Regions from separate parts of the Homo sapiens genome. Here region 1 is linked to region 2. The links come from fine-mapping of genetic effects on gene expression. Tissue or cell type: whole blood. Region 2 holds a variant in brackets; the other region holds the start of a gene. All regions are shown on one strand. Distances are between the middles of the regions.

Region 1 (7,835 bases), 46 kb before region 2:
TTCTACTGTCTGTGGAGATCTATTTCCAAACTGATAGATGAAATACAAATAATTGTGGTGCTGAAGCTTTAATTATCTCTTTCTTTTATTCAAAACATTTACTTGGTATTTACTATGTGCCAAGCTCTAGTATACAAGGGTAAATAAGACACAGCCAGTGCTTTTATGGAATTCTCTGGTCTGTGCAATAAGTGAGGCATAGACATTCTATGGAAGTATCTCAAGAATCCTAGCAAATCATTCCTTTGTGTAACAATAACCAGCCTAAAGGATCATGTTTGTAAAATACTTCATTCTTTGTTAAATACTGCCAGTCTTATCCCATTTGCCTCTTCCCTCTCCCAGTGTCTAGTAGAGCCCGGCTATCCATGAAGACCTAGATAAATGCATACCCAATTGATCTGAAATACCTGAACTAACCACTGTTTTGAAGCCAAGTGTCTAAGACACTAATTGTAATTAGCAATGTCTGAACATAATCTGAATTTGAATGCCTTTGGGCAAGTTATGCAGAGTTTGCCCCAGGTCCTACCATTTTCCATTGTATTAGACCTAGCTGGATTCACTTATTTTTGTTGCCTGACAAACCCAATAGGTATTTGAGTTTTGGGGGGATCTTACAGCCAGTACTCTGCTGTCATAGGTATATGAGTAATTATTTGATCTCTAAACCATCTGTGGCATAGATAGACTACCAGTAGCCTTAAGATGCTATTCTACTCAATTTAATAGAGCATTTAAGTTCAAATTAAATCTCAATTTTTTAAGCAATAAACAGTGAGTTCCCACTTTTTATAAGCCTTTATATTAGAAAGTTGTGAGAATTCATAGAATAATTTATCATTGGAGAATTCATAGAGGGTTTCCTCTAAGAAAGGGCCCTTGCCCTTAAAGACATTGTACCATAATTGGAAGGTTAAAACTCTCACACATGAAAAATAGTAAAACTGATGTAAAACAAGTGATAAAATTGCAAAAGCCCTAGAAGTTGACTAAAGGAAGGGAGACTTCCCAGAGGGGTAGGATTTGAACTGGGCCTTTGAAGCACTGGTAGGATTTGGGGTTGAAGCTATTCTAAAGGGCAGTGCATAGCTGACTCAGAAGCAGTCTCAGAGGTGCAAATGCACAGGCGTGTTGAGGGGACAATGAACAGAGTAACTTGGCTGGACACTTAGGTTGAGAATGTCAAGAGCTTAATGCCAGGCAGAGCTGCCAATCGGGAAATAGTGGCAGTCACTCAAAAACTAAGTGACAATACCAAAGGAGTATCTGAAAAAGATTACATCTAATTTTTTTTTTGAGTATAGAATTGAGGGTGGGTGGAATTGGTAGACAGCCTCTCAATTAGGGGGTCACTGTATTCATCTAGATGTTTGGTAACAAGGCCCTAACTTCAGGTCAGAAAAAGGAAGCAAGGAAGAGGAAGAAGAAACATATAAGACAATTGACAAAACAATTGACTGCTGATCAGCCATGCACAAGAGACAAAGAGAAAAGCAACAAGATTGACTGTGGTTTTAAGACCAGACTGGCAAGACAATATTGGAGCCATGGGGGAGGAAGGGTGGCAGGGAGAAATAGAAGATGGGGAGCTGATTTTAGAGGGAAGACAGTAAGTTTGGTTTTAGTCTGGGCAAGGCATAAGCATTCCAAAAAATTGTAGGTCCAGAGTTTGGGACAAAATTTAGGGCTAAAGATAAGGAAGTTATTTCTAATATGGAAATGTTAGTTAATATTGAGGAATGAATGAACCATCTGATGGGGAGAATATAAAAGAAAGATTATAAAGAAAAGATCTGAACTCAGGAACGTCCCAAAATTTGGAGAGCAGGAACAGAGGACTAGTGAAAAAGGCAGAGACAAGGTGGTCAGAAGAGCATCAGAAGCTCCCCCAGGGCAGTACTTCTGAGGCAATGGAGGAAAATCCCTCAAAGCAGGGGCAGTTCATCATAGGGAGCCGTGAAGACTAAGAACTGGAAGTCAGCCCACAGGTGTGTTAGAGACAGCTGGAAGGCATCAGAGGTGACTGGGGCTAGATAACCTTTCAGATGCTCTTGTCTGTCCTGGAATTCTGTGAGTTGATTTGAAGGTTATCGAGCCCAGCTACAGTGGAGCAGGGTGTGGCATGAGGAGGTGATACTACAGTTGCCCCTTTACAGAGTAACCCACGTATGCAACAATTAAGACATATGACATATTTGGACATTAGCATGTGGAATTAAAATGACACACAACAATCTACTGGTTGCTGTCCAATGTATTGTAAAGCAAATAAACTCTGAAGCATGACCCATAATACTGTCTCTACCATCTCCTTTTTCAAATCAACCTCAAACTTCCCCCTGTCCATTACACGAACATTTCATTTCTGGTGATTCTCCTGACATTTCATCAAATAAATCCATTCAACAATTCGGCAAGCACCCACTAAGCACCTATGTGTATTGCCAGGTACTGCACTAGGAACTTGGGACTCAGAGAACCTTAAAGGTGTGCTTCTTGCCTGTGAGGAGCTCCAGTTCAATGGAAAAGCTCACCAACAGGAGAAATCTGGGGAGAAGACACCCTGAAGCAGCAGACAACAAAGAGCCTGATGATGGGGAGACCTCAAATAATGAAGGCAAATAGATCAGGTTCCAGTGGCAAGAGCAGCAGGACCAGGATTGTTCATCCACTCACAGAATCTTAGGCTTGGAAAGGAGCTTGGAGGACATCCAGGCCAACTCCGTATTTGACCCTGATACAACTGTCTCATTACTGCTCACACTGAATATTTTTACTCTGCATTTTGTCAATTTAGGTCTCTCATTCCCTGCCCCTCAGAGCCATAGTATTTTTGGGTTAAAAGTCCTGATTAGTTGGTAATCTCACTCAGGCTTAGCCTCTCCACCTCCATCCCCTCCACATGAACCCATTGCCTTTGCTCTTCTACTCAGTGCATCCAGGCGGTGAGCAATCAATAGCAATTATTTCAGTTCTGTTTAATTTTTCTACCTTTTCGCTGATCATTTTATATGGAAAGAATAAGCCTTTCCATAGTCCCCAAATCATGCTTTTGTTCAATAATGATTACCTCTATAAGTTATTAAGATAATAGTTTTGGGTTTTTTGTTTTTGTTCCCCCTCCACCAACAGCTGCCTCTTAGGCATAGCTTGTAAACAAAGGCCAGCCTGGAGGGATCACCGTCTGCTAAATGGATAATCACAAACAGATGTCAGTCATAGGAAAACAGATTTTTAAGTTCTTCACCATTAAGCCTCCGAAAACTCTAAGCTGAGAGACAATCTTAAGAATAGTTATATTATTTTACAGTGCACATATTTGGTGCAGAAAATATCTCACCTTATAAAACTGAGCAACAAGAACAATATGCATAGGAACAAGTGAGAGAAATCTGGGGCAGGAGGACATTAGCTTATTTGTGCCCCTCAGCACAATTTCTGAGGCAGAATGTCTCTTGCCTCAAATGGTGTGGAGAGAAGGTAGGCCACCCTTCCCCCACCCTGGCAGCCTCATCATGGTCCACAACATAATAGTATGAGAGTATCTCAACCCACTCGTTACTCACATGAGGACTTGCCACAGCTCCACAAGTAAAGATGCAAAAGTAAACAACAAAAAACAGTTGCTGTTTGTGTTAGATTTCCTTATAGTAGCCACCAAAATGAACAGCCAAAAGGAAAAACAAAACAATCAACATGCAGTAGCTCCAACCCAGGATTCTTTCTAGCTGGGACATATGAGGATGGGTAACAAAAAAGCACTCAAAATTTGGCGTTAAGATATATTCAAGAGAAGAAAAGTTGTTCATTCAGCTTAAGGTTTGCCGTAACATGAGAGTGAGTCAAACCAGAACTAGTTCTGAGGAACTGACGAAAGCCTGGCTTATTTGGAAAGTTTTGGTTTTGCTTTTAGCAGTTTGTCTGTGAATGGGATTGCATTCCTGATTTGGCTCTTGGCTTAGCTATGGTTGGTGTTTAGGAATACTAGTGATTTTTGTATGTTCATGTGGGATCCTGAAACTTTCTGAAGTTTATCAGCTTAAGGAGCTTTTGGGCTGAGACTGTGGGATTTTCTAGATATAAAATTATGTCATCTGCAAACATGGGTAGTTTGACTTCCTCTCTTCCTTCTTGGATGCCTTTTCTTTCTTTCTCTTGCCTGATTGCTCTGGCCAGGACTTCCAATAGTATGGTGAATAGGAGTGGTGAGAGAAGGCAGCCTTGTCTTGTGCCGGTTTTCAAGGGGCATCCTTCCAGCTTTTGCCTATTCAGTGTGATGTTGGCTGTGGGTTCATCATAGATGGCTCTTATTATTTTGAGGTATGTTCCTTCAATACCTGGTTTGTTGAGAGTCTTTTTTTTAACATACCTTGAGAGTTTTTAATACCCTTTTATTCCCTCTCTTTCCCCTATTCTTATATGTGCTCCAGCTTCCCCATTGTCCCTGGAGCACATTTAGGAATAGGGGAAAGGGATGGAATGAAGAATACCAGCATGTCTTAGTGCTGTGCCAGGAAATTGACTCATTTCCTAGGGCTTCTGTAACACATGACCTCAAGTCCTTGGCATTCCCTGACTTATAGTTGTATCACTCCAATCTCTGCCTCCATCTTCAAATGACATTCTTTTCTGTGTGTATCTCTACATTCCTCTCCTCTTATGAGGATACCATCCGTTTGATTAGTGCCCACCCTAATGCAGTATGACCTCATTTAGACTACATCTGCGTAGACCCTACTTCCAAATATAGTCACATTCTGAGGTCCTCAGTAGACATGAATTTGGGGGGAACATTATTCAACTAACCTCACTTCATTTCATAGTGCCTCATTTCATTCTCAGTGCAATGTGTGGTTTAGAGTTAGACCCATTTTACACATGAGAAAACAGGACCAAGATCAAACAATGTTTCCTTAGTTGCATGGCTGAATTTGAACTCGGACCTCAGTGGCCCCACTATACCTTCAGGCTTGTGATTGGTGAGATTAAAACCACATGGCAAGAAAAGGCAAACTTGAATATAGGCCTGAATGATCAATCCTTCTCCTGCTGCCTCCCGCCCTTTTCCTTGTGCTTATAGGGGTAGGACCAGCAGAGATGTGGGGCTGAACACTCAGACAGAGGATGTTTTTAAGAAAACATCTCTCCTTGCCTGTCCTCTAAGCCTTCCCTGCCTCCTTGTTTCTTCTACAAAAGCAAGGATCTCCTTTCCTCCTCCTTGTCCTGCATCCTCTTTTCGTCCCATCGCTTGAACAAGAAGTACTTTAAGAAGTACTACGAAGCTGTGTAGTACCTACAGATGGGAGTGGCTGCCTAGACGGCAAGAGTTGGGACTGTGTCTGTGGGACCCGTGCTTCCTCTGGGGATCTGCTTCTACACCCACGGCTCCAGGCATGTGGTTTCCTTAGGAGTTGCCATTCTCTTACCTGACCCTCTGTTCCTGGCCACAGTGACTGGCTGAGGAATGGACATATGTCCCCTGTGTGGCTTTGAGTTTTAGTATCTATGGAAAACACACCTCACCTACCAGAGTTCCTGTCCTTCTTTAGGAGTGAGGTGCACTCACCACAGTTTCCTTTCCTCTCTCTTGGGTAGCCTTTCTCCAGGCTTGGCCTGCCTCTCCTCTTCACACTTTCCTTTGGGCAGTTCAGCTCTGCTTTGCCACAGTTTAGGGCATCCTGAAGCAAAGGAAGGCCCAGGTATATTCACAGCAAGGCCAAATGAAACTCAAGCTAGTGTCTCAGCACATTAGCCTGCCTCATAAATCTATATGTCTAGAGAAAATAATGGAGGGTTACAAACCAAAGTGTTAATAAAGGCATTTCTGGGTGGAGGTAACTTTTTTTAGTTTTTTGTTAAACTTTTGTTTTACATAGGTAACTTTTTTAGTTTTTTGTTAAACTTTTATTTTACATAGGTAAACTCGTGTCATGGAGGTTTGTCATACAGATTATTTTGTCCCCTAGATACTAAGCCTAGAACCCAGTCATTTTTTTTTTTTTTTTTTTTTTTTTTTTTTTTTTTTTTGCTCATCTCCCTCCTCCCTGGGGCCTCCACCCTCAGCTAGGCTCCAGTTTGTGTTGTTCCCCTCTTTGTGTCCATGTGTTCTTATCACTTAGCTCCCACTTATATGTGAACACATGTGGTATTTGGTTTTCTGTTCCTGCATTAATTTGCTAAGCATAATGACTTCCAGCTCCATCCATGTTCCCGCAAAGGACATGCTCTTTTTTACGGCTCTATAGTATTCCTTGGTGTATATGTACCACATTTTCTTTATCCAGTCTGTCGTTGATGGGCATTTAGGTTGATTCCATGTCTTTGCTATTGTGAATAGTGCTATGATGAACATGTGTGTGCATGTGTCTTTGTGATAGAATGATTTACATTTCTTTGGGTATATACCCAGTAATGGGATTGCTGGATTGAATGGTAGTTCTGTTTTTAGCTCTTTGAGGAATTGCCACACTGCTTTCCATAATGGTTGAACTAATTTACACTCCACCAATAGTGTATAAGCATTCCCTTTTCTCCATAACCTTGTCAGCATGTTGTTTATTAACTTTTTTTTTTTGAGATGGAGTCTCACTCTGTCTTCCAGGCTGGAGTACAGTGGTGAGATCTCAGCTCACTGCAAGCTCCACCTCCTGGGTTCATGCCATTCTCCTGCCTCAGCCTCCTGAGTAGCTGGGACTACAGGCGCCCGCCACCACGCCCGGCTAATTTTTTTGTATTTTTAGCAGAGACGGGGTTTCACCATGTTAGCCTGGATGGTCTGGATCTCCTGACCTTGTGATCTACCTGCCTCAGCCTTCCAAAGTGCTGGGATTACAGGTGTGAGCCACCGCACCCGGCCAACTTATTAACTTTTTAATAATAGCCATTCTGACTGGTGTGAGAGGATCTCTCATTGTGATTTGGATTTGCATTTCTTTAATGATAAGTAATATTGAGCTTTTTTATATGCTTGTTGGCCATGTGTATGTCTTCTTTTGAAAAACGCCTGTTCATGTCCTTTGCCCACTTTTTAATTGGGTTGTTTGTTTTCTTCTTGTAAATTTGTTTAAGTTCCTTATAGATACTGGATATTAGACCTTTGTCAGATGCATAGTTTGCAAAACTTTTCTCCCATTCTGTAGGTTGTGTGTTTACTTTGTTGATAGTTTCTGTTGCTGTGTAGAAGCTCTTTAGTTTAATTAGATCCCATTTGTCAATTTTTGCTTTTGTTGCAATTGCTTTTGGTGTCTTTGTCATGAAATCTTCACTCACTTCTATGTCCAGAATGGTATTGCCTATATTGTCTTCCAGGGTTTTTTATAGTTTTAGGTTTTACATTTAAGTTGTTAATCCATCTTAAGTTGATTTCTGTATCTGGTGTAAGGAAGGAGTCTAGTTTCCATCTTCTGTATATGGCTAGCCAGTTATCCCAGCCCCATTTATTGAGTAGGAAGTCCTTTCTCCATTGCTTGTTTTTGTCAGCTTTGTCAAAGATCAGATAATTGTAGGTGTGCAGCCTTATTTCTGGGTTCTCTATTCTGTTCCATTGGTCTATGTGTCTGTTTTTGTACCAGAACCATGGTGTTTTGGTTACTGTACCCTTGTAGTATAGTTTGAAGTCTGGTAGGATGATGCCTCTGGCTTTGTTCTTTTTGCTTTGATTGCCTTGGCTATTTGGGCTCTTTGTTGGTTCCATATAAATTTTAAAATATTTTTTTCTAGTTCAGTGAAGAATATCACTGGTAGTTTGGTGGAAACAGCATTGAATCTATAAACCGCTTTGGTCGTTTTAATGATATTGATTCTTCCTATCCATGAGCATGGAATGTTTTCCC
Region 2 (4,000 bases):
AAAAAGAAATCATTTTTATTTCCATATAGCACAGCTCTACATCCCATACAGTGACCCAAGTTTAAATTTCAAGTTCTGTGAAACATTTGTAATCCCTAGGAAGTCTGGTGGACATCCTTATTCCACAGGTCCCAACTTATGAGGTTAATTAATTCAATAGTGTAGGGCACATGCTTTTGATCCTAGATGTTCTTGAGGAGTATACACTTTTATTTTTCATCTTTTCCCAGAGATGAACCAAATTCTGAGGTATTTTAATATCTATTGATTTCTATCCATTTCTACTGCCAACTAATCTTTTTTTCCAGAGAAATATTCAAAATGCATGCTGGCAACAATTATTTCTTTGTGCAAATCAACTCCATCTCAGGATCTTACTGTCATTGAAACTTGATCCTTATATTCTGGCTATCTCAGTCCTGTTAAGAATATAATTTTTGGAAACAGCTTATCTCTACTCTCTCAGTTAACACTACTTTCCCCCATGTAAGGGGTTATGGGGAATTTTTCAACGACTATTGGAATCCCCTTCCATATTCTACTTCCCTATTTAACATCAGACAACTCTATACCATCACTGGATCTCTTGGTATACTTCTCTAAGTATTGGAGGAATTATTTACTCTGACTCATCTTAAATGGGAGGAAATTATTTGAATATACTCATTTTCCTGGATTTTAATTGTTCCCACAGGTAAATGGAGAAATGAACACATGCAAATTATGTAACATCCTCTACCAAAAATTTTGCAAAATACTCTATGGTAAACATACTACAGTTCTACAGAGGAACTATTTTTATTACTTAGGGTACCCAGAAACCAGCTGGTTGCAACTAATGCAAGACTAAAATGCAACTGAAAATGACGGGCATTTTAGCTCTTTCTCTTCTGTAAGTCTGTGGTTATTTTCATGATAGAAAAAAACTGTATGACACTGCATCTTCTACCTCCATCCATACCCATTCTCCTGCCCCTCACCCCTTACGCTTCATCTTCACCCAGTGATCCCACTCAGCTTCAATATAATTGCTGTTGAACAGTGGAATGCCTTTGCACCACCTTGCAGAGGTTAAGTCGGGTTTCCTTGCAGCCATGATCCAATTCTCACCCCTTCCTCACCCCCAGTGGAGACCACTGCAATTAAGGAAATACTACCTTTTCTTAAACGGAAGATGAATGTCAGTGCTACACCAAGGCATAATAAGATGGCTCCCAGAATTACCAAGTGAGTCCTTTCATTTGGAGGATGTGCCAGAGGTAGTTCTGAAAAACAAAACAAAACGAAAACAAACTGACTAAAGATAAAATTTTGATGGGAAGGGGTCAGGAGAATGGTCATCCTTGAAGTTTAGTTTAGCTTTAGGATAATTTTCTTAAATGCCAAAGTTTGAGTGGCTGGAATGGCGAGATACCTGTGTTAAAATGGGAACAGCATGGAGAAGTGTGAGAAGCCCAGGCTTTGAAAAGGTGGTGCTGGGGCTAAATTCTGCTGCCCTTAACCAGTTTTGAGGTCTTGGGCAAGATACTTAACCAGTGTACAAAATACAAATGCTAATACATTTCTTGTGAGGCTAATATTTATAATGTGCTTGCACAGTACCACATGGAGTGGCTGCTCACTATTAAATGGC[G/T]GCCTTGATTATTTCACTTCCTCTTGCTTTTTTTTTTTTTTTTTGAGGCAGAGTCTTTCTCTGTTGCCCAGGGTGGAGTGCAGTGGCGCAATCTGGGCTCACTGCAACTTCCGCCTCCCAGGTTCAAGCAATTCTTGTGCCTCAGTCTCCCGAGTAGCTGGGATTACAGGTGCACACCACCACACCCAGCTAATTTTTATATTTTTAGTAAAGGCAGAGTTTCACCATGTTGGCCAGGCTGGTCACAAACTCCTGACCTCAAGTGATCTGCCCACCTTGGCCTCCCAAAGTGCTGAGATTACAGGCATGAGCCTCCGCTCCTGGCCCCTCTTGCATTCTTTAATATAGAAGCTAGTAGCCTACAGTACATGGCAGAGATGGCCCACAGTAGAACATGGAAGGCCAACCAGCACTGCTAAGGAGCTCCCACCTCCTCCTATCTGTCATCATGATTGGAGGCCAATGCTTGTTGTCTTATCTTTCTCTGCAGTTTGAACATCTCTGGACAACAAGCCATTAGTATCTCTTACTAGGCTCCTTGTCTGGGGTACCATGCAGGAGGAAAGGGGGTCCCATGGTACACAGATGTTCAGAGGCTGCTAACTCCCACCTCTCACCCTTAGTCAGCTCCTGCCTGGCTCAGCTCTCCACTGAGACCCATGATCCATCTTTGACTACCCAGGTGAAACTTTAAAGACACAACAACAGCCAGCTTTTTCCGTAACTTACAGTTTACAATGCCTGTTCACGTATGTTTTATTTCAGTTTCAGAACAACTTTATGAGTTAGGCATGCCAGGTATTTAAAAAAAAATCCCCAATTTACAGATGAGGAAACAGACTCAGTGCAGTTAGGTGAGTTACTGTAGGCCACCCAACAAGTAAGTTGTCATAAAACAGCTTGTAAATGGCAGGAACCCACTAATCTAGCTTTTACTGAAAGCCAGTTCAATACCTGAGGACTCGTACCCCAGTAAGAGCATCCCCATCATTTTCTAAAGTTTTTTCCCCCTCTTTCTGTTCACAACACCGTCCTGGATTATCTTTTCCTATTGATTGACTTTTCTATCTAATTTTTCAGTTGTTTTTGCTGAAGTACGTGGCATTTTCCTATCAACATGTATTGGGGGAGGGGGCAGTGAGCAGCTCTTCTCAGAATATCTTTGTGTTTATATTAAATATCATGCTCACTCGCCTCACTTTCTTTCACATTCTGAGCCTCTCATCAGACTCTGTCTCCCACCCTACCTACTTCTGTAGAGTAGTGAGATAAAAAAAAATAGTTGAATTTGTGCAGGCAATGGTCTCAAATCATTTTCATACACTGTTGCTAATCTGACCCTTACAATAAGCTTGCTCAGTAGATTATAATCCTACAGGGAAAGTGAAGCACACAGAAGTCTAGTAATTTGCCCAGGGACACACAGCCTCATGTTCTATGCACTAAGCAGACTGCTAGAGTTGAAATATTGTAGACTACCTTGGGAGAGGCACCGGGGAGAAAGGGTCCCTCATGTTTGGCATAAGATAGAAAAATATGTTCCATTTATTTCCTGCCACCCTGGAAAGAGGGAAGCAGCTCTGATGTGCCAGGATTTGGATTCCTGAAACAAGGCCTGAATTGAGTATTCCTCTCAGGTATTCCCCAGGTTTCCCGGCTATGAAAGCATTTCCCACATGGTGTTGGATTGCCTGTTTTTTGTTTGTTTCTTAGTTTTTTATCTGTTTCCTGAAGAGTGTGAACTGAGTCTTATTATTCTATGTGTATCCAATGAGTACTACAATGCATGGAACAAAAGGTATATTCCATAAATATCTGCTGAATGTTTATTAAGTAACAATATGGTTTGGATGAATGGAGGTGAGGAATTAGGATATATTTTGTAAACATAGTGTTATTCATTCATTCATTTATTCAACAATCACTGAATGACTATGATAGGCAGACATCATGCTAGGTGCTAGGGGACAGTGTTAGACATATTTTAATGGACACATTCAGAATATTACCTGGGATGACCAATTCAGCTGTATGGTTTTCCTCAGGATCTAATCTCCTAAAAGTGCAGTAGAAAATCTCATTAGTTGTTGTGTTGATTCTCAGTGTGCTGGTCACATTGAAAAGCTTCTCCTCTCTCTTGGAATTGGTGGTGGTGGTCTTACCACTCAGGACTTGATGGTCACTGCTTGTCCAGATGACTTCGGCCTTGGGGTAGCCCTCAGCCTGACATGTCAGTTCATGTTCAGAGGTGACTGGATCCACAACCAAAATTCTTTGGTTGATTTTGTTGTATGGGGCTAGGACATAAACAAAAAGAAGTCAGGGCTTTTGCTGAGCACAGAACTACGTACATAGCTTGATGCTGTC

What was found. PIP is the estimated chance that this variant, and not a neighbour inherited with it, causes the effect.
Region 1: it holds the start of PDCD1LG2, and the variant in region 2 is fine-mapped to the expression of PDCD1LG2 in whole blood (TOPMed, PIP above 0.99).

Annotation. Positions count from the first base shown.
Region 1 is chr9:5,506,538-5,514,372 of GRCh38, reverse strand. It overlaps PDCD1LG2 (programmed cell death 1 ligand 2), which reads right to left and starts at 3,842. Exons shown (of 7, transcript NM_025239.4): 1 at 3,570-3,842. All of the region lies in intron 2 of INCR1 (interferon stimulated noncoding RNA 1), which reads left to right. RefSeq lists enhancers at 3,744-3,793, 3,954-4,013, 4,074-4,153, 4,095-5,294.
Region 2 is chr9:5,462,764-5,466,763 of GRCh38, reverse strand. It overlaps CD274 (CD274 molecule), which reads right to left. Exons shown (of 7, transcript NM_014143.4): 4 at 3,643-3,930; 5 at 1,158-1,265. The region is part of intron 2 of INCR1 (interferon stimulated noncoding RNA 1); the gene reads left to right. Among named protein-coding and RNA genes, the nearest start is that of CD274, 14 kb to the right of the region's middle. The variant G/T (reference allele first, on the strand shown) is at 1,634.